2 separate regions of the Homo sapiens genome follow, and region 2 is linked to region 1. The links come from fine-mapping of genetic effects on gene expression. A gene starts in region 1. The other region holds a variant in brackets. All regions are shown on one strand. Distances are between the middles of the regions.

What was found. PIP is the estimated chance that this variant, and not a neighbour inherited with it, causes the effect.
Region 2: its variant is the best candidate, but not a certain one, in a credible set for the expression of TAFA1 in ileum (GTEx, PIP 0.53).

What each region holds. Positions count from the first base shown.
Region 1 is chr3:68,002,683-68,005,611 of GRCh38, reverse strand. TAFA1 (TAFA chemokine like family member 1) reads right to left here and starts at 1,365. Exons shown (of 5, transcript NM_213609.4): 1 at 910-1,365.
Region 2 is chr3:68,442,469-68,445,397 of GRCh38, reverse strand. All of the region lies in intron 3 of TAFA1 (TAFA chemokine like family member 1), which reads right to left. Among named protein-coding and RNA genes, the nearest start is that of TAFA1, 440 kb to the right of the region's middle. The variant G/T (reference allele first, on the strand shown) is at 1,692.

The DNA of each region.
Region 1 (2,929 bases):
TACCCTTCAAAAATCTCAACTATACGTTGAAAACGTGCTAGTAACCTCCCAGCCTGGCTTCTTTATTCATGAAAATTGGTTCTTTATTAAAAACTGATGTTCAGAAAACAAAAATATACATCATATGTATGCACATAATGCACGCTAATTTGTGGATTTTAGCAGAGAGATGCAGTCTTGGAAGGATTTTAGGACTATAATAGACAAATGGTGACAACTATAATTAAGTGCAAAGCAGGAAAACATTATTTTCAACAGCTTGGTGCTATTCATGCCTAAGTCTGTGATTCAGATGGAGCATTCACTTTCTAATTAGTTTCACTGCCCACTGTTTACTTTTGTATACAACATACTTTGCCTTATTGTTTTCAGAACTATTGGGATAACATACATGCATTCTCTTCAGTGGAAATAAACAGCAACACCCCTCCTGTGAAACCTAAAATGAATGTATTTGGGGACTTTTTCAGAATACCCTGCAAATTACAGAAAGACAAAACAGAGGTGACTGTGGATGTATTTACTGCTTGTGAATTGCAGTTAAAATGTACTGGAAATTCATCCAAACTTGAAAAAAAAATCCTGCCACAACCAAAACTTAATAGTTTTTCAATGACTGCTTTCTCTTGCTCATTTCTTCACCCATATAGATCCTACCACTCAAAAGGATTACTGTGATTTTATGCTTGCAATATATATTTTTTTAATTTAACTTTTTTAAATTCTCAGCATTACTTCCAAGCCTCCTGCATGTCACTCTCACTGCTTGCTCCTTTACCAAGGGGTTGTCTCAATGTTATTAAGCGTCTTCCCCAAATAAAGCATTCAGCCTTGCACAGTTCTCTAGATATGCCTGGATATGTTTCAGATCTGCTTTCTGAATCTTAAACCCTTAAAGATGCTTCTTACCTGAAAAATCCAGCCAAGAGCAGAGTACTCTATTAGTGTTCATTGGAAAGATCTAACACTTTTTAAAATCCATCTGTGCCACAATTTAAAATTTTTTTTCAAAGAGCTTCCCAACAATCTTCTTTATCAGGATTAAAAAAAAAAAAATGTTACTCTCTTCCGATCCTATTTCCACAGTAAAAAAAAAGACATCGGGTTCATTCAGACTGTATTGTCAGAAAAGGAGCCAAGGTTTGAGGGGTGGAAACCTTGTCATTTTCACCTTTAAATCATCTCCTGGCGTCACCTCTGCCTGACGAGACCTTTGAAGTGATGGGGAGATAATGTGCAGTTTCCTGATGAGAATCAGTTTATAGTTGCCGATGGACCATCCCCACTCCAGTGCATTCGGGGCAGAGTAAGGCAGCAAAATGTAGGAGCAGGGCTGCTATACGGTGCTGTAAGTAGCAGTAGTCTGTTTCAATACATCCCTCCGCTCTAAAGTATCACATGTCTTAAAGTGACATTACCCTCTATTACAGCTACAGTGAATTGTAATATCTGCCTACTAACTCTTCAACAACTCAAGCAGCGCTTTAACATTATATTGCCTGATTTATTACATTAGAAGTCCTACTGATACCACTGATTTAACAAAAGAGTAAAGAGGGAAGGAGAAACAAGAAAAAAGCATTCTGCAAAATACTGATAGTATTAGTGGGAGTTAGACTTCTAACAGTAAATGGGAAAGTGAAATATAAGCCATTTCTTACCTCTTAATGTTCTTTTTACCAGTAAATTAACCACAAATATTGTCAGGTTTATACTAATTTAAGTCTGCTGGTTGTTTCAGCAGTTAAATAGACTAGAATTTACCTGGAATAGGACATAGATGCGTATATGCATAAGTCCAATAAAAACCTTCTGAACTTTTTGAACATGTTTAATAAATAAAAATATGTTATTTTCAGCATCAAATGAAGAAATATGCTCACAGCTCTTTTTTAAAAAATTTTTCCTCTCCTTCAAATAACATGCTGGGGTGGGGAGGGAAAACACTCAGAAGTTCAACATCTTCTTCCTCTTACTACGGTTTGAACCCTTTCTTCTTCAGAAATATAGTATAATTTTGCCTAAATTTCAATGATGAATACAAGATGACCTAGTTTTCATTTATAGATTGTGCTGGTAATAATTCTCTGAAATACCCTCAGTTATTTCACAAATCACTTATAAAGCACCTACTATGTGTTAGGTGCCTGGGAACAAAGCAGAAAACGTGATTGATGAGATCCCCACTGTTATAGATGATACTGTCTAATCTTTTATGGTGTTTTCAAAATCAAGGTAGTTCTCATAATATTGCTTCCTTGGAAACATTTTGAAATTCCCCAGAATACTCTCTTGCCTTTCAGAGGCACAATAAAGAAGGTCCAATGCTGCTGCACATCTTTGCAAGTGATTCTGTTTTCTCATGTTACACACAGTGAGAGAGTTAGGGATCCTTCAGACTCGTCAGTCTTGCCAATTGGTCTTTCACATTGCACAAAACACACATAATAGCTCTTTGTAACATAACAACTGTTCTCTAAATCTTACCTCTAAACAGATTTCTAAGTAATAGTAAATATTAATCTCACAGTTAAAAATGTCAAAGTTCTAGTTGGTGTTGCATGTTTCACATCTGTGCCTCATTATTATTGTTCATGAGTGTGTACAGAAAGTTTACACTGACTGTACAGCATCAAGATAAAAAAATAATAACAGCAGTGGCAGCAGGTAATGTTTATCAAACCTTCACCAGATGCTAGCACATTCTATAGTATGTCTTGTAAAGTCTAATTTAATTCTTTTTACCAACCCCACAAGATAAGTATTATTATTATCTCTGTTTCACAGATGGGGAATGTGAGAGGAGACAGGAAGATTAAAGAACGTGCACAAGGTTGTGTGGTAGTAAAAGACAGAGCAGATTTCAAGCCCAAATGATTTGGCTCAAGAGTACATTCTTAAACACTGGGATAAAATATTTAATGGAAAA
Region 2 (2,929 bases), 440 kb before region 1:
AAGTAGATAATCCTTCAGTGCTGAATTCTACAAAAGTGCACGTCCTACCACTACACAAATTTGGATCAAACACTGTGCAATCAGAAGGCTTTCTTCCAACTAAATTGGAGTGGTCGTTATCACTTTCCCAAAATGCAAAAATAAAAATGGCAGAAATAGAAAAGGTACTATACATAATCTGCTAAGCAGATGTCACAGTAAACCAGCTAATTCTGCAGCAAAGAAAATAAAATGCTCAAAATGCAAAGTTTATAATGTATGAAATGTCTTAGAGATGTAAATATCAGCATGTCTAAGTTTTGTTTAATTATCTTTGGGTTATAACAAAAACTGAACACAGATATGGGCTCTATTCTCAAGATAACTGTCCATATTCTTTTTGAATTACTCAACCATCATTGATCAGTTAAATAAATATGTAATTTAATTAAACAATCCTGTGAAGTAAGTACAGCTACCAATATTTTGTAGATAACAAAATGTGGCATTCAGAAGGAATAGAGAAGTGCTTGAGATCATAGAAGTTATAAACGGAGAAGCTGGGATTTAAATCCAGATCCACTGTATTTATTTATTAATTTATTTTATATATATATATATATATATATATATATATATATATATATTTTGTAGAAACAAGGTCTCGCTGTGTTGCCCAGGCTGGTCTAAAACTCCTGGCCTTAAGTAATACTCCTGACTTGGCCTCCCAAAGTGCTGAGATTACACACATAAGCCACCACACTTGGCCCTGAGAGCCACTGTATTTAAAAGAAGAGCTAGCAGCAGCATTTTATATTACATGCATATAGAATACCCATATTCCTCCAAATATTCTTAGGGAGCTATAGTACAATGGTTAACTATTCACCCAAGATTTGTACTTCCTTACATGGTGTAGCATTGTTACTGGAAAGCTCAGCCAAGAGCTACAATTCCCAGGGTCCCTTCAGTTAGGTGAGGTATTGTGACTTCACCTGGACAATGTGAGAAAATAATGCTTGTCACACGAGAGTGACAGAGAAAAAGAAGAAGACTTGAGGACTCTAGGGAATTACATTGGATGTGATCACTGGTAGGTATAACTTATGGGAGAAAGAAAGACTAGGGACTGTCTGAGTACTTGAGAGAACTATTTTACCCAAAAGACTAGCACTGATTTTTTTAAAAAACGTATTTCACTGTTTGAGGCTACAGCAACCCTTGGACTTCCAAATTTGTATAAAGAAGTAGGTTATGAGAGCTATGGAGCTCCAAGGTGGGCACACTGCCTGACACTCCCTTCAGATGAGGCCATAGAGGATGATGAAAAAGAAAACCTGTCGAGGCTGTAGAGACAGGGCCATGGAGGAAAGGGACCAAGGGCTTCTCCCAAGTGGGGATATTTACAATGCCTGCCTGGCAGGATCTCACTTTGTTAGGAAATGGTGATCACTGCTTCTTTTCCTTTCTTCCCTTCTCTGAAAGGGAGTTTTAAAATTGCAGTTATTCTGCTCCTGACACAACACCTATGTGTTTTGTATTTGGGATGCGGTGAGGGATAGATGACTCATGTTGTGGTTTATAGGAAGGTCAGAATATGAGGAGGAATCTCATTTAGACCCTGATATGGTTTGGCTGTGTCCCCACCCAAATATCATCTTGATATGTAACTCCCACAATTCCCATGTATCATGGGAGAAACCTGGTGAATG[G/T]TGATTGAATTATGGGGTCGGGTCTTTCCTGCACTGTTCTTGTGATAGTGAATGAGCCTCAGGAGATCTGATTGTTTTAAAAATGAGAGCCCCTGCACAAACTCTCTCCTTGTCTGCCATAATGTGAGACATGGCTTTCACTTTCCACCATGATTGTGAAGCTTCCCCAGCCACATGGAACTGTAAGTCCAACAAACCTCTTTTTTTTTGTTTTTTTTTTTTTTTTTTTTTTTGTAAATTGCCCAGTCTCTGGTGTGTCTTTATCAGCAGCGTGAAAACAAACTAATACAGACCTGATGGAGAAACTATTCATGACCTGGAGATCCTAGACTGTGAGGTAGATGCTTGAAGGGTAGAACTTAGGGCTGTCTCTTTTTGGGAAAAGTAGGCACAGATATTTGGTGGCCAGATATAAGAATAGTGAGGGAAAAAGGTAGCTGCCTTCCAGGGTTCTGTGCTTGTGCTTCTTAGAGGAAGGATGTTACCAGGAAGAGGCTGTCTTACCCAGGACTGCAATTTTCAGGCCCCTTGCAACAAGGTGGAACCCCTTACCAATGGAATTTGAGTGTATGTAATCTGAGTCATTTTCGAGCCAAGGTAATTACGAAGTAGATGGGCCTTCTCTACTCTCTGCCACTTGATGTGGATGCCTTTTGTAGTCATATATAACAGAGCCACGATACAGAGGTGATTCAGAGGCTTCCTGTATCACCACATGGAGGAGAGCTACCCCTACACCTGAATCAATTTTTATGTGAATGAGAAGTAAATATCTATTGCATCAAGCCACTGAATCAAGAATGTGGAGGTATACAGGACTATAACATGAAATTACTGACCCTCAATCCTTATCAGCTATCTGATGGAGAGAAACAGTTTATAGTAAAGATTGCCTGTGAGATATTTAATCTATTCTTTTCTGCAGGCACTAAAATCCATTTCTGGTTTCAGTCAGACTAGTTGAGTGCTGATGGCTACACTGAGCCATTTTGTGTATACTACCTTATTGTTAGCAAAGCATCCCATACATTTTGTAGATTTAGAATATAGATTTCTTCTCCTCCCTTTCCTCCCTGCCTCCCTCTTTCTTTTTTCCTTCATTCACTCACTAGTAGCCACTACGTGTCATAAACTCTACTGGGTTATTGAAATGTGATAAGAATATTAGTATTGCTATAGTTTGAATGTCTCCTCCAAAACTCATGCTAAAACTTAACAGTATTGAGAGGTGGGGCCTT